Homo sapiens: one gene and its partners. The protein of the gene in region 1 purifies or fractionates together with the protein of each later gene. This does not show direct contact. Each region holds a gene or a part of one and is shown on either strand. Other genes may lie near its edges. The genes, in order: FARSB, GHRL, SWAP70, GART and RANBP3.

Region 1 (5,347 bases):
TTCTGTCTGATCATAAAAATCACAAGGTGACTGGTAAAAATACAGATTCTCACTGGGCAGGTTTGGGAAACGAACTCTCAGGAGTTATCCTTGATCCTAAAATAAAAGCATCTGATTGTCCCATAGGAAACCAACTGAGTCAACTCTAAAATTTTAACCATCCTTAACCTAATGCCTAATTATCACCATTTCACCAATACCCATCACTCACCTAAACCCTCACAATTTCAGAATCTAGCCCATCAGTTAGAACTCTTATTCTTTTGCAGCTGACCAGATAATGAAGAAGTAATCAAAAATAAAAACAATTTTTAATAGCTGTTCATTTTTTTCACTGTATATATTTGTTATCCTCTATCTTTTTTTTTTTTTTTGAAACAGAGTCTCCCTCTGCTGCCCAGGCTGGAGTGCAGTGGTGCAAATCTCGACTCACTGCAACCTCCACCTCCCAGGTTCAAACGATTCTGTGCCTCAGCCTCCTGAGTAGCTGGGATTACAGGTGCACGCCACTATGCCTGGCTAATTTTCATATTTTTAGTAGAGACGGGGTTTCACCATGTTGGCCAGGCTGGTCTTGAACTCCTGACCTCAAGTGATCCACCAGCCTCGGCCTCCCGAAGTGCTGGGATTATGGGCATGAGCCACCATGTCCAGCCCCTCTATCTTCATTAAATGAAAAGCTGGAAGGGGCCTTATAAATCTTCTTCATTATAGATTAGGAAATTGAAACTAGAGAGGCCAACTAACTTGCTCAAGATCACAGAGCCGTCATAAGATCTTTGGTTTTTCCAGTTAGGAGGCTTCACTCCTGAGCTTCCTTAGAACTCATAATGTAAGGGTATTTATTGCTAGCTCTCCATTTCCTCTCAACTTTTAACACATCCAGTGAACTACTCATTCCAATTAGATCACGGAGGGGAATCACACACACCTGCTAAATAATTTTTTAAGACGCCATAAAAGCATTAAACACCAGTTTTAAAATATGTTCTCAAAGATGAATGGCTATGACTAAAATTTTCATGGAAATTTTCAAATGGCTACAATCTGCATGAATCTAATTCCTCAAATCAACCCTCTATTGAGAGCTAAAGCTACGTTCCTCTACAAGCTTTTTCCTAGAAATTTAAACATGGCTGCTGATAATGACAAGGAAAGAAAAGAAAACCCAACTTAGCAAAGTCTTTAAGGAACATATTTCCTTACCTTTCTTTGAAGACCTGAAGTCCTCGAACCAATCCTTCCAGACACAGGAGATCATATCTATTGGCAGGGACGTCAATTTTGTAAAGAACAACATCAGAGGCTCCTGCTGCCTTTACATTACCTTGTTCTTTACTTATTATTTCCTTCTCAGATGTCTAAAACAAGCCAAAAAGTAATGATAAAAATTAAATAATTTAAACTCTCTTTAAAAAGTAAAAGTTGTCAGCCCTATAAGGCAGTAACTACATTATACATATTTTCTATAACAAGAACATGGGATTATTATATCCACGACAAAAACAACATGAAAATATTAAGTGTTATAATCATAGCAGACAGAAAAATACTTCAGCTTTAACTGAGTTCAGATATCTGGCAACCTCAATCACCCCAGAAAAGCACAAATCCATCTAAACAAGGGTCAGCAAGCAATAGCCCCCTGGCCAAATCATACCTGATACTTGTTTTTGTAAATAAAGATTTATTGGAACACAGACAGACCCATTCATTTACATATTATCTACTGCTACTTACACACTGCAATAGCTGAGTTGTAACAGAGACTATAGAGCCAAAAAGCCTAAATATTTACTATCTGGCCCTTTACAGAAAAAGTTTTCCCATCTCAAGCTAAAAGAAAATTAAAACATCACCAAGAACATAAAGTAACAACAACAAAAGTGTCAAAGGGGTAAAAGAAAGATGATTCACTAAATAAAAGAAACACAACTTCTTATAGGATGACTCTAAAACCTAAATCCTGTGGGCACCCAAGTCCACATGAGAATGAGAGGGGTAGTATAAAAACTAAAAACAGTCAGAGACCATCAGACACTGGTAAAAATTAGAAGGGATAATAGGTACAATGGGAAGCAAACTAGTGATAGCAAAGGGATAGTGCAGCAGAATGAAGGCAGCCAAGAGGGAGATGACAGAAGAAACACCACTAGAATCACGTTTAATGCAGTGGCAAAGAGTTTAGAATATCTCAAGCACCACACTACAGCAGAGTAACAGATTTTCTTAAACATAACCACTGCAGAGAAGTTACACTCTATTCCTTATGTTTACTACAGCAGGGAACTGTAAATATATTTAAGAAATTTTCACTTGAAATGATTACAAGTTGTATTCCAACTGTTAATGTTACGCTTTAATTATGTGGAAACTCCACTTAACCAGAATTCCTACTATTTCCACCACCAACAACCTGCTAAAATAACTGATGGATTTCTATCAAAATATGTAATGATTTTTGTTTTACATGATGCCCTCCCACTGCCACAATATAAGTAGTTCAAATTTTTGTCCAAATTAAGAATTATATCCACATTTGCACAATATGCAGAGAAATTCACTTCTGGCCACGAGTATTATGTGCCAAAGTCCCACCTGAGGAACCACAGGAGTCTATGCAATGCTGGGGCTGTACAAGGTGGTGCTGGGCTCCAAAAAACCTCTACCTTGGGCATCTCAAACTTAGGAGGCAAATTTTTATAATTAGGGAAAATGAAAAATGAAAAACAAGAGAATGAAGAGGAGGAGGAAGGAGTAAAAAGGGGGAAAAGAAAAGAAGGGGAATGGGGAGAGGCAAAAAGAGAAGAGGAAGAATTCGAGTTTAAACAATGTTCAATCAAAGGGGTTAATAAAATTACTGTTTCAATAGTGAAGAAAGCTGAGTCACCTCCCAGGAGATGGCAGATCTCAGGAGGGACCTATATACAGAGAAGATAATATAATAACCGGAGAAATGAAGGCATCTGCATTCATTTTTCAGCAGCACCCCCTTATCCACAGGGGATATGTTTCAAGCTCCCCAGTGGATGCCTGAAACATTGGATAGGACTAAATGTTACATATACCATGTTTCTTCCTATACATACATACCTATGAAAAAGTTTAATTTATAAATTAGGCACAGTAAGAGATTAACAACTAATAATAAAATAGAACAATTAAAATAATATACTATAATAAGAGTAATGTGAATGTAGTCTCTTTCTGTCTCAGAATTTCTTATTGTACTATACTCACCTATTTTCAAACCACAGTTTGCTGCAGGTAACCAAAACTGTGGAGGCAAAAAACTGTGGATAAGGAGGAACTACTGTAAAAAAAGATCTAATTCCTTTGCAAAAAAAAAAAAAGACACAGAAGCTTACATCTTCTTTCAGTTTCAGCATCTCAGCTCATACAATGACCATATGTAAAGACTGAATTTGTCAGTGCTACCTGACAATAATCTTACAGAAATTTAAAATCACATAAATTTCAGAGTCAAAAAAGAAAACCATAAAGATCATATAATCCAAACCCCTTATTTCACAAATGAAAAGGAGGCCCAGAGAGACTCGTCTGGACTATAGAGTTCAGACAGGCAAAGTAATTGTCCATAGTTACACAGCTAGTAAATGTTAGAACTAGAACTCAAATAATCTAACATCCAGTCCAACACTCTTAGATATCACATAATTTCAAACATAATTCTGAGGTGTAGTAAAATTACGAATAGCAACTTATAAACTACAGAAATCTCAGCCAATTTCTCAAGTATACAAATAGATTAGTACAAAGATGATCTTTCTGTAACATTAGTAAGGCAGCAGGAAAAATAAGGTAAGATAATGTACAATTTTTTAGCCTGAACATTTTTTAACTTTACACCTAAGGTAGTGTTATAAAAGCACTGAATAGGTGAAGATAGAAGGCTTAGGAAAAAAATAATACTAACTATCAGAAAATTATCTTTTAAATTAAAGTATGTCTTTTTTTTTTTTTGAGAAAAAAATTGGGCTTTTATTGGCAATTACAAAAGTAATAGATTTTCTTACATAATACGTTCCTTCAGTAATATATTTTTCAAGTATTTTACCATAGAATTTCTAAAGTACTTTGTCATTGACCCCATAATTTATTATAAAGTAGGTCCCATAATCACATTTTTTGGAAGTTGCTGAAATTGAGATAAAAAATATTGTTTTTTTATGAGAAAAACTGGACAAAATACAGAATGGCCAAAACTAGATTAACTGGCTCAGTTATGTCTACTAGGTGAAAGAAAATACAGAATCTGTTACTGTAGAAATTTTAAGAGGTTTTGAGTCAGTTCCAGTATAAAAATAAGGCCAAAGTTCTCCTGTAAAATCATCATTAAAAGTACAGAGAAGAGATCTATCATTCAAATTATAAAAGGAAACCTCATTCATTTCACAGTCTAAAAAAATGCCAATCTTACTAGGTGTTACTTTTGGCAGCAGAATAATTTCCTTATGGCCCAATACAATATAATTATTCCGACTAGATTACCAAATTCTCCATAATCCATCCTGTACTAAAATTGGTTGACTCTTCCTCCTTGTGGGAGGAGAGTCACTACAGACACCAAGAATCCATTCAGGCATGTCTTTAACTTCTACTTCCCGGTACTGCCTGCCACAATTTTATCCCTTAGAACCCAGAACAGCTGGGAGCAGATAAAATCTTCTTGGGTTATGAGGTAAGTTTTGTGTTGTATTTCCATATCGCACAGTTTTTCTATCTTCTGAGACTATAAGTTTACGATGTGCTGCTTCAGGATCTAGAATTACATCTACTTGAAATCGCTTGATAATTTTGTTTTGGCCACAATATTGTGGAGACAGATGGTAACCATATTCTTTTAATTTGAATAAAAAAGGTTTAGGGAATTTTAAATTCTTATGTCTGTGATAGATATCCTTAACATCAGCCAGTAATTCCAGTTCTGACTTCACATATATGCTCTCTATCTTCTTTAGTAGATATTTTAATGAGGAGGTATAATCTGAAAATTTTGTTAGGCTTTCATTTAGTTGTGCTAAAATATCCATCTCGTCATCTTGTAATTGCCCAAAAACAGTCTCTTGCTCATTTTGCAGAAATAACCTAAGTTGCTCAAATTCAGACTTGACTTCTTCTGCCGTATGTTTTACCTTTTTCTTCAGTTCCAGTGATTTTCTGGTTTGTATAGTTATGACTTTTTCAATTAGTTCCACTCTCTCCTTCCACGGTGCATTGTATTGCTCCAGTTTTTTCCTGATAGGAGGCAGCCTTCTTTATGGGCCAAACACAGCGATGCTGGTGATCAGTGGACAAACTGCACCTTGGACATAAAAGCTCTAGG
Region 2 (2,847 bases), on another chromosome or scaffold:
CACATGTTTAGGCTAAGGTGGGCATGACCGAGTGGCCTTCCCCCGGGAAGACCAGTGTCGTAACTGGAATTAAGTTGTGGAACATAAGAGTCAAGGCTCGTGTCTGCTGTGAACTGGAGTTGAGGGAATGTTTGGGGATCCCACCTGGTATCAGTAAGGGAACCATGGCGACGGCCAGCCTTGCCCATGTGAGGCATTTGCTTTGTCAGGCCTTCTCAGTAGTGGAGAAGGGAGGAAGGAGAATGCAGCTCTTTCAGTGCTGTCTAGCAGTGCCCAAGAGCCGTGATTGGGCACCTCACTTAACGTCTAACTTCAGATTCACTCTTGGGCATTCCTGTCTTCCTCTCCAATCTTGAATGGATGTTGGCTTCGATAATGTCATCCTGAAGTTTCTTTGTCCACACAGCCCTGGCTGGTTGTTAATAAGCTGTTAATGCAGCCTTGCACTCAGGAAGCCCTGATGTTTAAAGGAACTGTGTCTTTGTTCTTCCTCTCTTCCCTCTTTCTCTTAGTCCCACTTTATCTCTTCTTTCTCTTCCTCTCCCTCCTCCTTTTCCCCTCTCCCTCCTACTCTCCCCCTTTCTCTCCTCCTTCTCTAAGAAACCCAGTCTTAATTCCACACAATGCATGCACATGCAGTAGCTTCTCTGCTTGAGTGAGCTGGTGTGATTAGGTTTTCTAAACATGCACATTGGCCTTGCTACTTGTCCTTTTATTCCCTTCCCACAGACCATAAACCAAGAATTATTTTTATTTGTATTATTTTGATTTTTTTAAAGTAAAATATTAACTTTTCCTCTTTGAAATAAATTCCCATTTGGAACATCAGCATACAGTTTGAACATTTATTCGCCTCCTGAGCTTGTACAACAGTCGTGGGAGTTGCTGCAGAAGCAAGCGAAAAGCCAGATGAGCGCTTCTAAACTTAGAGAGAGGTGAGTAAGGCTTGTGGGCGATCACTTGTCGGCTGGGGCCTCTGGAAAGCAAGAGGTTGAGTAAGAATGCTGGGTGCACCGTCCTGCTAGTGCTTTTCTTCCACGGTGGTGAGATTGGAGGTGGGATGTAATGGTGGGGGTTGTGGGGAAGCACTGGCCTTGGAGTCAGAGGGCGGCACTCAAGTGTGGACTGTTGTGCCCTGGGCAAGTCACCTCAAAGCTCTGAGTCTTGGTTTCCTCGTTTGCACAGCGGGGTGAATGCTACCCCTGCTGTTCCCCAGGGGTGACGGGTCACCGCCTTGGTGAGGACAGTGCTTTGCAGATGTGCAGGTGTTTCTGCCACCTCAATCAGTTGGGCGGTTTCTTTTTTTTCTTTTACAAGGTGAGGGGATTCAAAGCAAACCCTTTGCTTAACTCAGGAAGCTCTAATATTTGAAGGAACTGCTTAACAGGCTGCAGAACCTGTTCTGAGTGCTATTTTGGCACCAATTCCTTTTTGTTTGTGGAGTAAAGTTACGCAGTGAAGACGGTGTAACACCAAATAATTGTAGACTCTCACAATAGGTAAAATAGCTCCATTTTACAGTTAAGGAAGCTGAGGTTCAACTGAGGCCCCAAAGCTAGTTAATGTACTAGTTCTTAGAACATTCTTTGAACACAAAGACTATGATGAACTCCCTTCTGAGCCACTCACAAATACTAGCCAACCACTATCCTGCAGATCTTTGGGAAAGGGAAATTAGAAGTTCTTTTGGAGAGGCAGAGGTTGGGGAAAACTCATCACCCACAGAGTGAACTCCCATGTGGGGCTGCAAGGAAACCGAGCAAACCCAGTCCAGGCAGGACTCACCTTTGGCCTCTTCCCAGAGGATGTCCTGAAGAAACTTCCCCAGGGCCTGGCTGTGCTGCTGGTACTGAACCCCTGACAGCTTGATTCCAACATCAAAGGGGGCGTTGAACTAGGAGGCAGGGCAGGGAGGACCCAGGAGATGTCAGAGGTCATGCCCATCCCCATCTCAAAGGGGGCTCTGGGCTCTCTGCCTCTCTTCAGGAGTGGAGAGGGAGAATGGCCTTTGGGCCCCAGCAGGGACTGCTGAGTGACACCTCAGCCAGGTTCTCTTCCTTTCTCAGGACCACAGCTCACCTTCCCACTCACCATCTTTCAGACACTTACCTTGCACTCTCATGCCTCTCAGCCTTAGCCTCTAATGGGATTGCTGATAAAAGCTGTGGTGCCCCCTAGTGTGAGATTTTTTTTCTCCCTTGCAGTTTTGAAGACAAAAGGTTGAGTCACCAATGGCAGCATTTCAGGCCCTGGCAGGGGGTCTGCCCAGCATTCTCAGCACTGGCCTGCTGGCCTTCTATTCCTTCCCTGCTCCCAGCTCTTTCTCCTTTCTCTCTTGTCTGTTTCTTCTCCTTTTTCTCCTTCCCTAGGTATTTTTTCTCTCATATGCATAGACCTTTCTTTGATGCCTGGAAAATCAAAAGGAAGTTGATGTTTTCCTAGAAAGAGGCTCTGAGCCAAGTCCTTTCTGTGCTTCCATTTCTTCCCCTCTACAGGGAGAGCGCCTCATCTCTTCCATTTTCCAGGTATTCCTGAGATGATTTATTGGAGCTCAAAGCTTTGGGTAAGTGGGAAGGAGCTCTGCTGCAGCCACATGGCAGACTTTCCTTGAGAGCAGAGATTGTCTCTGCCAGTGGCTACCTCGGTGCCTGGCCATATTGGGCACTGACTTATCTGAGTCAGGGAAGGATCTTAGTGCTGGGTCATTTGGTCCTCACAGTAGAAGCCCAAGGAGTTGGAGGCCAAGGACTAGAATGCAGGACTTTTAAACCCACTTGGCCCTGAAAACTGCTTTAGTCCTATTGCCCTTCCTCTGTGTGAGGCCAGGCGTCCTCAGTGCCTCCCTGT
Region 3 (5,347 bases), on another chromosome or scaffold:
ACTGAAATGCTTGAGTTCCTCTAGGGCTGGAGGTGCCCCAGGGAGTGGAGACAGCCAGGGAAGTGTGGGAGGAATCCCATGCTGGATGACCTTTCCTTCTTCTTTAGTGTAACACTAAAGAAGACTGGGAAAAGGTTCGTTTGCTCTGACTGGGAAAAGGTTCGTTCCTTTTAGAGAAGACCCTATTGGTAAAAAGATTGTGACTTTAAGACAGAAAGGAATTTAGAGAGAAATTACACAAGGAAACATTTTTTTCTTGACTTGAGTCTTAAAATGTGGAGTGGAAGGGATGGAAAATACAGCAGGGCAGAACATAATTTGGGTTATAATTTGCTCTTCCCAGACTCTTTCACTATTGCGATTGGGTGTGGTACCCTCATCTCCTCCATCTTTAAGTTCAAGGATTGAAGGACAGGGTCCTGCCACCCTGATGGGCTGAGGCTGCAGCTGTGGGCAACCCCTCAGGTGGAGGTGAGGCTTTCCCTGAGAAAGAAGTCAACCTGCATTTAAACAAGACCCTTTTATACCAACAGATCAGACAGCAGATGGAAGAACAGGTTGCTCAAAAGTCCTCTGAACTGGAACAGTATTTACAGCGAGTACGGGAGCTGGAAGACATGTACCTAAAGCTGCAGGAGGCTCTTGAAGATGAGAGACAGGCCCGGCAAGATGAAGAGACAGTGCGGAAGCTTCAGGCCAGGTGCCAGATTTGTTTGCAGACTTTGCCTTTATGTACTTTGCCTGGGCTAATACAGTTTCTTGGAATGACTAACACTCTGGTGGAGAGGGAGAAGTGTCTCTGCTCTGGCTGTGACTGAGCTCGAGGTGCTGTCCAGATTAGAAAGACTGTGGAGACTCGACCGGCTGGAGTGTTTCTTTTCATTCTGAGGCGCTGGGAAACCCTTGCTTCTGGGGCTAAATAAGGGCCTATTTTAGAGCAGTCTGGTAGGTATGTTTGATGAGGTACCCTTAGTCTTATTCGAGAAAATCCACAAACCCAGAATTACCTCTGATAAGAGCTTGGCATCTTCAACACGCTCCAGACCAGAGAGGGCCATTGGTATGCAGGCAGAGGCCTGTTCAGGCCAACGTTGCCGTCAGGTTTTGAGGAATAAGGAAGAAATATGCAGTTTCTATTTGGTCATTCAGGATTGGTAACATTCCTTCAGTAATTACTACTTGAAATCCTAATTTTAAAAGTATTTGAAACCTAGATTTTTTTTCCCCTTAGAACTTTATGATAGTCATGTTCGCAGATGAAAATTCTCAATTTTGGGCCTTCATGGCAGCAGGGAGGACAAAATAAAATGAAGACTCCCAAAGGGAAAAATTGAGCCTATCCTCTGCCAGTTTCTACTTTGCTGCCCCATTTACATTATTTAAGGTGTCTGGGATGGGAGACAACACTAAAAAGTATTCACTACAGTAGCAGCACAGGGTCCAGTCTTTGATCTCTGACCCCCTGTTTTGGGGAGCAGTTATGAGATGAGCTAGGGTAGATTTTCCATGGCTGCCATTTTACATGTGGAGCAGCAAAAGATGTTTCTTTAATCTTTAGATAGGAAGAGAAAGAAGAAGCCATCTTTAGTTGTATATTTTGCCAAAAGTGACTTCAAAAATAAATAAATTGTTTTGGACATTTAGATTTTAAATTTAAATTTTTTTAAGGAAAAATTATTTTCTAAATAGAAAATTAAGCATGTAGCATATTGCCAGGCATATATAGGCCCCACAGGTGCACATTCACTGCACTGTGAGGTTAATCAGGTTCTTGGAACTCCCCTCCAGTGCCACTCGGCAGTGATTTTAGCAGAAGAGTCACTCTACGGGAATGTTTGAGTGCCATGTGACGTCCAGAGTGACGTTCTACATGACACTCAACATTTTTTGAGCCACCTCATAATTTGAGCCGTGTTGAGAGTTAATAGATTGTTTTTGTGCAAAGAATTCGCAGGTGAAATATGCTATATGTATTACTGCAGTTTTGTGGGAAGTTGATTATGACACAGCAGAGACTAGATCACAGAGGGAACCAGATAATTCTAGAAATACTAGTCTTAGTTATTTAGTGTTTATAGAATGAGTGATATTTTGAATAAGGGATAATTTTGGATAATTGAAGCCAGTGGTTTTTTAACCAATGTTATGTATCAGAATCACCTCACAAAGCTTCTGAAAAATACACCACAAAGTGTGGCTCACCCACCACACTTTGGGAGGCCGAGGCTGGAGGATCACTTGAACCCAGGAGTTTATGACCAGCCTGAGCAACATGGTGAAACCTCATCTTTAAAAAAAAAAAAAAAAAAAAGTCTACTTGGGAGGCTGAGGCAGGAGGATCACTTGAGTCCAGGAGGTTGAGGCTGCAGTGAGCTGCATTTGCACCACTGTACTACAGCCTGGGGGACAGAATGAGACCCTGTCTCAAAAAAAACACAAAACAACAACGGCAAAAAACTCCAGCTAATTATTTTGCACACTCTGATTTAAGCAATAGCAAAATGGTTTCAACCTTTTGAATCCAGATGTAACTTCTACATACAGCTCTGATCCAATATGCTGAAAGTACTGCACACAAATTTAACTTTTTCTTAATGTGCAAAGGGCATTTTATGAATATAATTATTTTATTATTCTAAATTTTTTTTTCTCTTAGTTTTTGGAACCTGAAATGGACAAATTTGCCCCCCTGCTCCCTTTTTTTTTCTGAGATGGAGTCTTGCTCTGTTATCAGGCTGGAGTGCAGTGGCGTGATCTCGGCTCACTGCAATCTCCGCCTCCTGGGTTCAAGCGACTCTCCTGCCTCAGCCTCCCGAGTAGCTGGGAGTACAGGCGCGCACCACCACACCTGGCTAATTTTTGTATTTTTAGTAGAGATGGGGTTTTGCCATGTTGGCCAGGATGGACTCCATCTCCTGACCTTGTGATCCGCCTGTCTCGGTCTCCCAAAGTGCTGGGATTACAGGCATGAGCCACCACGCCCGGCCTAGTGGTCATTTTTAAGTGAAATGTGTTCCTCTTTCCTGAAGTCACTGAAGGCTGTGGCTGATTCAGAGGGACTTTCTGTCAGATTGGCAGAGAGGGTTTGTTCTTTGCTCCTCAGGATAGGCCTTTCTGGATAGAAAAATCAAGGGAAGTCATCCTGGAGTTGGGTTGGAAAACTGGCACTAATGAAATGCACATAATCTTACGCCAAGGGCCTGTGTAAAAGGCTGCTCAGTTAACTCTTCTCACTCCTTTTTTTTTTTTTTTAATTTTATTATTATTATACTTTAAGTTTTAGGGTACATGTGCACAATGTGCAGGTTTGTTACATATGTATACATGTGCCATGCTGGTGTGCTACACCCATTAACTCGTCATTTAGCATTAGGTATATCTCCTAATGCTATCCCTCCCCCCTCCCCCCACCCCACAACAGGCCCCGGTGTGTGATGTTCCCCTTCCTGTGTCCAAGTGTTCTCATTGTTCAGTTCCCACCTATGAGTGAGAATATGCGGTGTTTGGTTTTTTGTTCTTGCGATAGTTTACTGAGAATGATGATTTCCAATTTCATCCATGTCCCTACAAAGGACATGAACTCATCCTTTTTTATGGCTGCATAGTATTCCATGGTGTATATGTGCCACATTTTCTTCATCCAGTCTATCATTGTTGGACATTTGGGTTGATTCCAAGTCTTTGCTATTGTGAATAATGCCGCAATAAACATACTTGTGCATGTGTCTTTATAGCAGCATGATTTATAATCCTTTGGGTATATACCCAGTAATGGGATGGCTGGGTCAAATGGTATTTCTAATTCTAGATCCCTGAGGAATCGCCACACTGACTTCCACAAAGGTTGAACTAGTTTACAGTCCCACCAACAGTGTAAAAGTGTTCCTATTTCTCCACATCCTCTCTAGCACCTGTTGTTTCCTGACTTTTTAATGATTGCCATTCTAACTGGTGTGAGATGGTATCTCATTGTGGTTTTGATTTGCATTTCTCTGATGGCCAGTGATGGTGAGCATTTTTTCATGTGTTTTTTGGCTGCATAAATGTCTTCTTTTGAGAAGTGTCTGTTCATGTCCTTCGCCCACTTTTTGATGGGGTTGTTTCTTTTTTTCTTGTAAATTTGTTTGCTCACTCCTTTCTTAAAGCAACAGCCGATCATTCGTGGAATATTTGGAATCTCATTATTCTTTTAATGGATAGTTCTTTCTCTGTCAGTCTCTTAAAAAGACAGTGTCTTAAAAAAAAAGAGAAACTTTTTATAGTAAATTGTTTAAATGAAAGACAAGAACTTTAGCTTGAAACACGTAGATCTTGTAATTTTTTTTTTTTTTTTGAGACGGAGTCTCGCTCTGTCACCCAGACTGGAGTGTAGTGGCGTGATCTCGGCTCACTGCAAGCTCTGCCTCCCAGGTTCAAGCCATTCTCCTGCCTCAGCCTCCTGAGCAGCTGGGACTACAGGCGCCTGCCACCACGCCCAGCTAATTTTTTGTATTTTTAGTAGAGACGGGGTTTAACCGTGTTAGCCGGGATGGTCTTGATCTCCTGACCTCGTGATCCACCCGCCTCGGCCTCCCAAAGTGCTGGGATTACAGGCTTGAGCCACTGCACCTGGCCAGATCTTGTAATTTTAAAAATTACGATTGAAGTTTTTTATTAACTTTTAATTTTTGTGGGTACACAGTAGGTGTTTATATTTGTGAGGTACATGAGATATTTTGATACAGGCATACAATGTGTAATAATCACATCAGGGTAAATGGGGTATCCATCACCTCAAGCATTTATCCTTAGTCTTACAAACAGTCCACTATACTGTTTTAGTTAGTTTTAAATGTACAATTAAATTATGATTGACTATAGTCACCCTTTCTGCTATGAAGTTTATTTTTTTATGTGTAATCCTGAAGGTGATCTAGCCACTTCTGAATGAGAACTCAGAAGAAAACTGTTCATTTAAAATGTAGAATACTCAAGTTATTGGCCGGACATGGTGGCTCACGCTCTAATCCCAGCACTTTGGGAGGCTGAGGCGGGCGGATCCCTTGAGGCTCGGAGTTTGAGACCAGCCTGGCCAGCATGGTGAAACCCTGTCTCTACTAAAAATACAAAAATTAGCTGGGCGTGGTGGTGCATGCCTATAATCCCAGCTACTCGGGAGGCTGAGACACTTGAATCCAGGAGGTAGAGGTTGCAGTGAGCTGAGATTGCACCACTGTACTCCAGCCTGTCTCAAAAAAGAAAAAAACAAAAAAGAAAAAATTAAGAAAAATCGAGTTATTGGAAAGTTCTTGAGGCTGAGCCATAATCTGTCCTGTTGTAACTCTTACCCACTTTGGATCTGTAACAC
Region 4 (5,347 bases), on another chromosome or scaffold:
CCACCCGCCTTGGCCTCCCAAAGTGCTGGGATTACAGGCATGAGCCACTGTGCCCAGCCCCTCCCTTCCTTGTTTTTGTAAAATAAAGTCAGAGAAACTTTTCCAGCTATAGTCAACTAATACACATTGATTTGAAGGAGTAGAAACTGAGGGAGTTTACATAAAATAACTTCTCTGTGAAGTATTAGTGAGATGATCAGGCCTGGGGTGGGAGCTTGAAGAGAGGAGTGGATAAAGCAGTCAAGGTCAAACAGGAGTGAGACAGTGAGCAGGACTGAAGGCACAGGTGAAGGTGAAGCTGCTCATGTAGTTTTTCTCCCAGAGCAAAAGCATGTATATAGCTTTGAAGCAAGAACAGAAAAAAAATAGATTAGTTAGGTTGATCCAGCTGAACTAAGCAGGTATTGGGGTCATTCATTGGGGAGAAGCAGTCAGAGTGATAGAGGTGAGTAGATATGGTGAGCTAACCCAAGAGTCAGAGCGTATGTGAAGCTCGGAGAGAACTGAAGAGTCAGAGGTAGGTTGTGTGGAAGTGAGGAAATCGGCAAGGGAAGCTGGGAGAGTGGTCAGATGGGATTTCAGCCTAGTCAGGGAAGCAAAACAGACAGGCCAGGCTAGGCTGAGTGGGAGTCTCTTCCAGGTCCATGGACTGAGCATATTAAGGAGTTGAAGGATTCATAGGAGGGTGAAACTAGTGGTTCAAGACATTCCTTGGGTAGAAATGCTTTCTGGTGAGCATATATAAGAACCTTAATAAGTAGTTCATTCATCATCCTTTTCAAATAGTTAAAAAACAGTGGCCTGCTGATGAATGGGGAAAGGAGGCAGGACTGATTTGTGCATTTGCCAGTTTTTGTGGTATAAATACTCCCATCATAGCTGCTTTAAAAATGGCTGTTTAACAGTCTCTACAAGCTGGCTCTAGCACACCACTAGTTAAAAACAACATAGTAGTCACCTCATTAAGAAACTGAAAGTGATATAGCCATATTCCTGAAAGCAGTTATAGTTTGAGTTACACAAATGTCTGTATTCCAATAAAAGCCATTGCACAATTCCTTGCATCAGCCTCTAAAGTTTCTTCCAGGAATCATACTTTGACAACAGATTTAAGTAAGGACTTCTGGGGGTTTTTTTGTTTGTTTTTTATTGAGACAGAGTATCACTCTGTCGCCCCAACTGGAGTTCCGTGGTGCGATCACAGCTCACTATTGCCCCAACGTCCTGGGTTCAAGTGATTCTCCGACCTCAGCCTCCTAAGTAGCTGGGACCACAGGTAACACGCCACCACACTTAGCTATTTTTTGTATTTTTAGTAGAGACGGGGTTTCACCACATTGCCCAGGCTGATCTTAAACTCCTTGGCTCAGAGCAATCTGCCCATCTCAGCCTCCCAAAGCGCTGGGATTACTGGCATGAGCTACCACACCTGGCCAGGACTTTTCAACATTAAAATTACAACTTACATTATTCATGAAGTACTTGTTCATTTATAGAAGCTAGACTCTTAGTCTGCCAGTGTTTTTTCCTATAAATATTTTGTAAAACTTCACTAAAACAAGATCATAATTTGGTAATCTGCTACTTGCCCTGCCATTAAATATGTCATCACTATCTCCTTGTCTTAGTAGCATCATTTTTGATAACAAGTATTCCATTTTACAGATGTACCACTATTTAGTTTTAAGTTGCTATTTACTTTTAACTATTGAGAGCATAGTGAACAATGTAGTTACTAAATCTGAGGTCAACTATTAAGAATGGACATTTCCCAGCTACTATAAATGGAATTGAATCTAAGAGTCATAGACATGTGATTCATTTTTATTTTTATTTATTTTTATTTTTTTAGACAGAGTCTCACCCTGTCGCCCAGGCTGGAGTACAGTAGTGCGATCTCAGCTCACTGCAACCTCCACCTCCCGGGTTCAAGTGATTCTCCTGCCTCAGCCTCCCGAGTAGCTGGGATTACAGATGTGCGTCTCCACGCCCAGCTAATTTTTGTATTTTCAGTAGAGATGGGGTTTCATCATGTTGGCCAGGCTGGTGTCGAACTCCTGACTTCGTGATCTGCGGGCCTCGGCCTCCTAAAGTGCTGAGATTACAGGCCTGAGCCACTGCACCCGCCTCATTTTTAAAATTGTATCAACTTCAGGCTGGGCATGGTGGCTCACCCCTGTAATTCCAGCACTTCGGGAGGCTGAGGTGGATGGATCCCCTGAGGTCAGGAGTTCAAGACCAGCCTGGCCAGCATGATGAAACCCTGTCTCTACTAAAAATACACACACACACACACACACACACACACACACAGAGACACACACACACACACACAAATAACCAAGTGTGGTAGCACATGCCTATAATCCCAGCTACTCGGGAGGCTGAGGCATGAGAATAGCTTGAACCCAGGAGGCGGAGGTTGCAGTGAGTCGAGATCACGCCATTGCACTCCAGCCTAAACGACAGAGAGATACTCTGTCTCAAAAAAAAAAAAATTGTATCAACTCCAAAGTATTAAAAAACTGATTATCAGCTGAGCATGATGGCTCATGCCTATAATCCCAGCGCTTTGGGAGGCTGAGGCAGAAGAAGCCCAGGAGGTCAAAACTAGACTGGGCAACATGGTAAGACCCTGTCTCTCCAAAAAAAAAATTTTTTAAATAGCCAGGCATGGTGTCGCATGCCTGTAGTCCCAGCTACTCAGGAGGATGAAGTGAGAAGATCACTTGAGCCTGGGACATCAAGGCTACAGTGAGCCGTGTTCATGCCACTGCACTCCAGCCTGGGCAACAGAGCCAGATCCTGTCTCAAAGAAAAAAAAAATTATCCAATAAATAAATCAAATAAATAGGCAGAACTGATAGTAAACCTTATTATTTAATAAAAAGCTGAGTTCACATTGGCTTCCCTTTCTTAAGAGCATCATAAATAATTTAATTCAGTATAGTTTTTTTAAAAAATCAGATCCCATAATCGTAGATTCCAAAGAACTATCCAGATTCTTTTTAAATTCAGAAATGTTGTGTGTGTGTATATAGACCTTTACCTAAAAATTTTTATTAGAGATTTTTGTTGTATTATTTGTGATAAGAGAGAATGTATTCTTTTTTTTTTTTTTTTTTTTTTCAATTTGAGTCGGAGTCTCACTCTGTCCACCAGGCTAGAGTGCAGTGGTACCATCTCGGCCCACTGCAACCTCCACCTCCCAGGTTTAAGTGATTCTCCTGCCTCAGCCTCCCGAGTAGCTGGGACTACAGGTGTGCGCCACCACGCCCAGCTAATTATTGTATTTTTAGTAGAGAATGGGTTTCACCATCTTGGCCAGGGTGGTCTCGATCTCCTGACCTCGTGATCCGCCCACCTCAGCCTCTCAAAGTGTTGGGATTACAGGCATGTAATCCAAAGTGTTGGGATTCTCACGCCCGGCCGAGAGAATGTATTCTTATAGCAGACCTAGGAAGTCTAAATTTTAAAAAGAATGAGAGGGAGAGGGTGTTGATCCGCCTTCCATTAACATAACTTTTCTTGAGGAGTGTATGCATTTTCTCTAAATATGTAGATAAGCCATCTAGTTTTGCATTGTACTTTGGGTGCATTTTGGTCATCACAAAGACTCAGCCAAACATTCACAAAAGGATGGTATACTGGCCTTTGCTGGAATTCAGCTACTAGCTCATCTGATCCATTAGGGAATGTCTAAGGGTCTAGTTAGTTAATGTAGCACAAAACCTCACTCATTTGTGAGTACTGGCCAAGTGTGTCAACAAAAAAATGTTCTTAATGTCTAAGGTACAAATGGATCCCCAAATAAAAAGTTCTCAGAGGCCAATTTATAGTTTTACCCTACATAAAATAGCAGAGCCTGATTATAATTTCCACATCTTTGAATATGTGCATACTTTTGTACTTTGTGTGAGAAGGTAGGAAAATCAAACAATTCGTGTCTATTTTTTTCAGATGCCCAGACCTGGAGGATCCCCAGGGTCTTCTCATGGTTGCAGCAGGAAGGACACCTCTCTGAGGAAGAGATGGCCAGAACATTTAACTGTGGGGTTGGCGCTGTCCTTGTGGTATCAAAGGAGCAGACAGAGCAGATTCTGAGGGATATCCAGCAGCACAAGGAAGAAGCCTGGGTGATTGGCAGTGTGGTTGCACGAGCTGAAGGTACTTGCTCCTTACTCATTTTTAGATATATAATTTTAGCTGTATAATTTTAGCTATACCTCAGCCTTGCCTCACAAGCTTTCTGCCCACCTTTTAGTGCAGCCATCGCTATGGCAACTATCTTTACACAGATGTAACATGACAGCACCCACCCCAGCGATACCACGTATCTCTTCATTTCTGCCTCAGAACTAAGCATTCATGCATGCACAGCCACACCCCACAGGATCGCTTCCCAAAGTAATCTCCCTACACACAAGACCTCATGGCTCTGCTGTCACTCAGCTCGATTCAAGGAATAGCGAGCAAGCACCCTGACAAGTACTGTATCAGTCAGGACTCTGCGAGAAGTGCTAGAACTTGGCAGAGGGGCAGAAAATCCACTCAGATTCACTAACAAAGACGTCACATGCTTGCTTTGGCAGGACACATACTAAAATTGGAACGATACAGAGAAGATTCACAAAAATAAAAAATAGAAAAAAAAAATGTCAGACCTTGTTGACTTTACCTGTATCTGCCTTTCTTTCCTCTATTGTGTAGGATTCATTTTCAAGCGGGTTCTCCAAATGCCGGAAAGATAACATCCTTCAGCTCACATTACAATAAGAAAGAGAGACCCAGCCGGGCGTGGTGGCTCACGCCTGTAATCCCAGCACTTTGGGAGGCCGAAGCGGGTGGATCACGAGGTCAGGAGATCAAGACCATCCTGGCTAACTCAGTGAAACCCCGTCTCTACTAATAAATACAAAACATTAGCCGGGCGTGGTGGCGGGCGCCTGTAGTCCCAGCTACTCGGGAGGCTGAGGCAGGAGAATGGCGTGAACCTAGGAGGCGGAACTTGCAGTGAGCCGAGATCGCGCCACTGCACTCCAGCCTGGGCAACAGAGCGAGACTCCATCTCAAAAAGAAAAAAAAGAGAGACCCTCTTTTTCTTAACATCGCATATCAAGCCTTTAAATGGCTTTGCTAGGTCACATGCTTATCCCCGAGACCAGGAGATCATGGCACTACTGTGGGTGGTCTCGCTAGGAAGATTTGGGGAGTAGGGGCAGAATACTGGCAGGCAGTCATATATATCCACCGTGCACTTCAAGATAGTGATGTGATCTGCAGCTTTTAGTTGAAGTAATTACATATGTTCACCTTTTGGAAGTTTTTATGAAAGAGTAGTGTTAAG
Region 5 (5,347 bases), on another chromosome or scaffold:
TGAGGCAGTTGGGCTTGCATCATTATCTATTCAGGGTCTGGTGGTGATGTTTTCTTTGTTTTAGGGGGTCCTGGTGGAGCGGTGTTCTGTTTGACTCTGCCCTACGCAGTAGAGAATAACGTGGCCTGGGACATCAGGGTAAAGCTCCTCACCACCACCTTCCACATGTCCACAGTTTGCTTCCTCCTCAGTAGTCTTGGCACTTAGAGCTGCCACACAGCACTAGCTATGGATCTCAGCCCTGGATGGGCTTCACACTTGTTTAAGGAGGTTGTCAGGGAAAATCAAAACTGCTGCCTGGGCTGCACCATTGGAGATGGTTCCAGGAGTTCTAGGGTGTCTGTGGTTTTAAAGAGCTCCACAGATGTTTAACAACATGAAGCCAGAGTTGAAAACCACAGGCAGAAGTTGCAAACTTGCCTGAAGGGCAAGCAGACATATTTAATTTGGCCCATTTAGGTTTTTGTTTGTAATTAGGAGCCAACACTTAAAATTCTGAGATTTCAGAGGGGAAAAAAATTGTATTTCTGATTTCTCTCAGAAAACAGCAACCACCCTTGGCCTGCATTCTTGCACAGCAGTGATTTTTCAGTGCTAAGGAACAGCTGCGCCTGTGGATAGATTAGATTGGATATTGTGGTCTCCGCCATGTTACTTGGGGCCTAGCCCACTTCCTTCTCTTCCAGTGCCTGTGACCTTGGTTGGTATTTGGGTTTCAATCCTATTATACAGACTCCTAGACTCTGCATTCTCTACACTTAGAGTGCTCTTTAGCTAGAACCTTAGCATAAAGCACCTCATGGTCTGTAATTTAGGATTTAGTGTCCTTGGAATGCTAGAACTCAGATAGCATATGGCAGCAGTTCTCAAAGATGGTCCGGGGCCCTGCAGTCCCCAAGACCTTTTCAAGGGGACTGCAAGTTCAAAACTATTTCATAACAACACAAAGACACTATCTGCTCTTTTTTCACTCTTATTCACTTGAAAATGGACAGTGGAGTTTTTTTCCAGAGGTTATTGGATGTGTGATATGCCAACAGATGAACTATAGAAGCAGATAAGAGAATTCAGGCCGGGCACAGTGGCAAACACCTGCAGTCCCAGCTACTTGGGAGGCTGAGGTGGGAGGATCTCTTGAGCCCAGGAGTTCAAAGCCAGCCTGGGCAACAAAGCCCCTCTCTTTAATAAAAAAAAAAGAGAGAGAATTCAGCTATCTTCTATTAAGTCAGACGTTAAAGACATTTGTCAAAATGTAAAATAATGCCACTCTTCTCAGATTTTTTTAAATACTTATTTTTCATAAAAATATGTTATTTAACTAAACCTTTCTGGAGTTTATTATAATCTTAAGTATTTTGAAATTGTCTTAGGTTTCATTTCTAATATGGTGTCAGTAGTAGCTACATCCCACATTTCCAAAAGCTCTTGGGGATGTTCAGTCATTGACAAGCGTGGAAAAGGGTCCCGAGACCAGGAAATTTGAGAACCACTGGCATGTGCTAGCAGAGCCTCAGTGTACAGTGTGGGTTTCTCCGCTGCCTTGCCAACATCGGGAGAATTCTAAACCAGAGCTGACCAGCAGGTTCCCATTGGCAACTTGTGGCATGGTTGGAAGCACCTGGATTGGCTGTCCTTGGTTTGTGTCTTGCCTTCTGCCCTAGAAACATGGGCAAGTTGTCTGACCTTAGCTCTTGCATCTGTAAAATGGGAACGATGATACGCAAGTCTGAGGATTGTGGTGTGAGAGAGAATATACTTCTGGTAATTGACCTACTGGAATGTGGAGATACATGTCAGTTACTTCTAGCTGTGATTCTCCTAATTGGATGCCTGAGTAGAGAGAAAGCACCCTGTGAGTTATACCAGGGTTTTTCCACCTCAGTATTCTTGACATTGGGGCTGGTGGTGGCCATCTTGTGCTTTGGAGGATGTTGGGTAGCCCCTCTAGCCTCTACTCATGTGATGCCATAGCACCCAGTCATCCCACCCATCCACTCCCAGTCATGAGAAGATAAAAGGTCTCCAGACACTGTCCAGTGTCCCCTTAATGTCAGAATTGCCCCCACTTGAGAACCATTGGGTTATGGGATTTCATTGACACCCAAGAGACTTTGTGTTCCATAGTTATCTAACCTACTGAGGTCGTAGGAGCCTGTACACATTTAAAGCCACAGTCTGAGTGGGGAGGGAGAGAGGCGGTGAATCCCAGAAGCCAGGGTGGGGGGTCACCCTGGTTTGTGCCATCTAATCTATTGGGGATTTATTTTGGTGTATAATGTGAGTTAGAGATCCAGCTCAATTTTTTTGCCCAAGATTAATGCAAGGTTTCTTGCCCTCAGCTCAGTTGACATTTGGACTTGGGTCACTTGCTGGTAGGGCACTGTTCTGAGCCTCCTAGGATGTTGGTCAGCATCCCTGGTCTCCATCCACTAGATGTCTGTAACAGTTTCCTCCACACCCCCACAAACATGACAGTCACAATGTCTCCAGATTTTGACCAGTGTCTCCAGGGAGATGAAGTTACTCCTGGGTGAGAACCACTGGTCATAGGATCAAAGGAACCTACCCAGGAATAAATTAATTGCCAGCTAGAGTTTAAGGCCCTTCCTCCCAACCTTATTTTTCTATTCTGGCCTTTTGGCAGCTGAGTAGGCCTCAATGGACATCATATCCCTCTTCAGGAAGAACAGTCTTTTCCTTGACCTTTAACACTGCCTCTGGTCCAGGGTGAGGACCTGACAGAATGTAAGGGCTGGGAAGAACCTTCAGGGATGCCTGAGTCCTGGCTGCACCATTTCACAGGGGCTGAAGCCCGAGGCCATGGAAGCAGGTAGGGCTGGCTAGGGCCAGTGCGCCTGTCTCCAGCCATGGAGTCTAGGAGTTCATGCTTGTCCTTCCCGGTGAGTCAGTAAACTCTAGGTAATGGGCACTCGTTCACCCCTGAAAACTGACCCGCGTAGGGCACTGCATTTCGCTGTCGCTGTTTATGGTGTTCAAAGAAAGGGAGGAAATTCTAGAGACAGTAGTAGTTACTCCATACACATGTTTAGAAGGCAGGCCTTGCCTTTTGCAGTAAGTTTAAAATGCCTTTGCTAAATTAAACTCCCCCAGGTTTGCCACAGAGAATTTTGGGAACTTATTTACCCAGAATTAATTCCTGCGTTGCATCTGTGAGAGCAGAGCGTGAGTGGAAACGGTCCTTGAGAACTTGCCTTTCTCTGGGGGAGAGGGTGAGAAAACAGGCAGTTACCCTCTGCTCAGAGGAGAGAGGATGTTTTGCAGCATTGATGGTGATGGCCACTGGGTCCTAAGAGTCCAGAGCCTGGGCCCCAACCTTTACACTGGATAAATCCAGATTTGTCAGCATGGCCTGCAAGGCTGAACGTCCTGTGGGCTCCACCCAGCCCTTCCCGTTCTCCTCCCCTCCAAACATGGGCCTCCAGGCTCTTCCTTTCCTTAGAACCTTTGACTTGGGGTCCCCTCTGCCTGGGATCCCCTGCCTTCACCTGGCTCATCCCTGCTCACCCTTCATGTGTGAGCTTCAGCGAGGCCTTACCCATTCACTCACTCTCTCCCACCATCCTGTGGTATTTTCTCTGCAGCACCCAGCTCCAGAACTACCCAGTTATCTCTGCACACAGCAGGTACTTGTTTGTTTTCTCTTTCCCAGTAGAGAGCTGCGGCCTTGTCTGCCATTTCTTTCCTGTCTCCAGTGGCAAGCTCGGTGCCTAGCACAAGTCTGTGCTTGGTAGATCCTGCTGGTGAGAGCAAGGCTTGGCTGCTCGGCTCGGCCTGCCTTCAGATCCCACCTGTTTCCTGTGACCTCAGAAGGGCTCAGGCATTCCGAGCACCTGAGCGTTTGCCTTGAGTGTCCCAGGCGTCCAGGCAGCTCTTGGATCCAACCATTCCACCCCCTAAAAGGGGTCAGACTCTGACGCATTTGTCGTTGCCGGGCACTGGCAGCTGTCCTTGAATCCAAGGCCTATGCTTTAAGGTGGCATCAATATGTTTGCAATCTTCCGAGCATAATAATGCTACCAGTGCCAGTGTGGAATCATCCTGTGTGCCAACCACTTCCCCAAACACGGCATGTGCAGCATTTCATTTCATCCTTGCCGAAGCTGCCTGGGGTGAAATAACAGCCCTGATATGCAAATGAAGACATTGTGCCAGAGGTACATTGTCTTATCTGGGATCCCAACCGCAAGTAAGTGGCCAGGGCAGGTTTGAACACACACAAAGACCAGAGCCCGCGCTCTCCAGTATCATCAGTTTTGCTCTGCTGCCTCAGCATAAATTCTGTAGTTCTTGGATTTCCTTCCTGTAAGCTTCCGTGTAGAGAGGAGGGGATTCCTGTTGTCTCTACTGGAACTTTCCCGAGTCTTCAGCCACTTGCATGTTGCCTCAGCTGTGTTGGTGTCACACCACCTAGTGGCGGAACAGAAAAGTGCCGTTAAAGCTGGATCCTCCATCTCTCCACGCAGTTTTTTCTTTTTTCTTTCTTTTCTTTTTTTTTGGAGACAGAGTCTCACTCTGTCGCCCAGGCTGGAGTGCAGTGGTGCTATCTCAGCTCACTGCAACCTCCACCTCCTGGGTTCAAGTGATGCTTGGGTCTCAGCCTCCCGAGTAGCTGGGATTACATATCCCACCAGGCCCAGCTAATTTTTGTATTTTGGGTAGAGACACGATTTCACCATGTTGCCCAGGCTGGTCTCAAACTCCTTTCCTCAAGTGATCCACATGCCTCGGCCTCCCAACGTGCTGGGATTACAGGCATGAGCCACTGAACCCAGCCATCCATACAGTTGTAGGCAGAGTTGCTGACTTTGTATAACTTTATGGGGTTTCTGTTCAGAAGTGCAAGTTCTGCCCCCCGGGGCTTACGGTCTGGGTGGCGCAGGAGTGGAAGCTTAGAAGGGTTTGGCTGCAGGGCTGATAAAGGTAGAAATAAAGAAGGCAGAATGTGGCTTGGCCCTCATGGGGTGGAGTGGGATATGAGGAGGATGTCATGGGGATGCGTCTATGATGAATGAGACTAGATATGTAAAGTACCTACCTCGGAGTCCAGTAAAGGCCTTTTAACAAATGCCTGTTGCCCCTGCAATGCTTGTTGGAAGTGTAAGTATCTGGTGGTGAGATGAGAGTGGTTGGAAGTTGGCTTGGAGTTCGGTAGTTGAAGGTAATGCCAAGATGATGAGCATTCCAGAAAGAAGTACATAAAATGTAGGATATCATCAGCTCCAAAAAGTGTGTCCCCATAATCTCCATGAGACCAGTTGAAAGTTATAGAAATATATTCGAGTATTGAGAAAAGAACGGAGTCATCCAGGGTCCCACCGCCTTCCAC

Evidence for each region.
Region 2: the proteins of FARSB (region 1) and GHRL purify together in Homo sapiens (affinity purification with mass spectrometry; one large-scale study listed by BioGRID and IntAct). This does not show direct contact.
Region 3: the proteins of FARSB (region 1) and SWAP70 fractionate together in Homo sapiens (co-fractionation; one large-scale study listed by BioGRID). This does not show direct contact.
Region 4: the proteins of FARSB (region 1) and GART fractionate together in Homo sapiens (co-fractionation; one large-scale study listed by BioGRID). This does not show direct contact.
Region 5: the proteins of FARSB (region 1) and RANBP3 fractionate together in Homo sapiens (co-fractionation; one large-scale study listed by BioGRID). This does not show direct contact.

What each region holds. Positions count from the first base shown.
Region 1 is NC_000002.12:222,641,645-222,646,991, forward strand, and holds part of FARSB (phenylalanine--tRNA ligase beta subunit), read right to left. Parts: exon of another isoform or gene 5,157-5,347; intron 4,703-5,156; exon of another isoform or gene 3,978-4,702; intron 3,278-3,977; exon of another isoform or gene 3,241-3,277; intron 1,362-3,240; coding exon 1,207-1,361; intron 1-1,206.
Region 2 is NC_000003.12:10,284,919-10,287,765, forward strand, and holds the end of GHRL (appetite-regulating hormone isoform 1 preproprotein), read right to left. Parts: intron 2,564-2,847; exon of another isoform or gene 2,370-2,563; intron 1,895-2,369; coding exon 1,786-1,894; intron 977-1,785; coding exon 957-976; 3' UTR 748-956; downstream 1-747.
Region 3 is NC_000011.10:9,739,648-9,744,994, forward strand, and holds part of SWAP70 (switch-associated protein 70), read left to right. Parts: intron 1-533; coding exon 534-700; intron 701-5,347.
Region 4 is NC_000021.9:33,510,072-33,515,418, reverse strand, and holds part of GART (trifunctional purine biosynthetic protein adenosine-3), read left to right. Parts: intron 1-3,960; coding exon 3,961-4,167; intron 4,168-5,347. UniProt on the Homo sapiens protein: Trifunctional enzyme that catalyzes three distinct reactions as part of the 'de novo' inosine monophosphate biosynthetic pathway.
Region 5 is NC_000019.10:5,967,187-5,972,533, reverse strand, and holds part of RANBP3 (ran-binding protein 3), read left to right. Parts: intron 1-5,347. UniProt on the Homo sapiens protein: Acts as a cofactor for XPO1/CRM1-mediated nuclear export, perhaps as export complex scaffolding protein. Bound to XPO1/CRM1, stabilizes the XPO1/CRM1-cargo interaction. In the absence of Ran-bound GTP prevents binding of XPO1/CRM1 to the nuclear pore complex.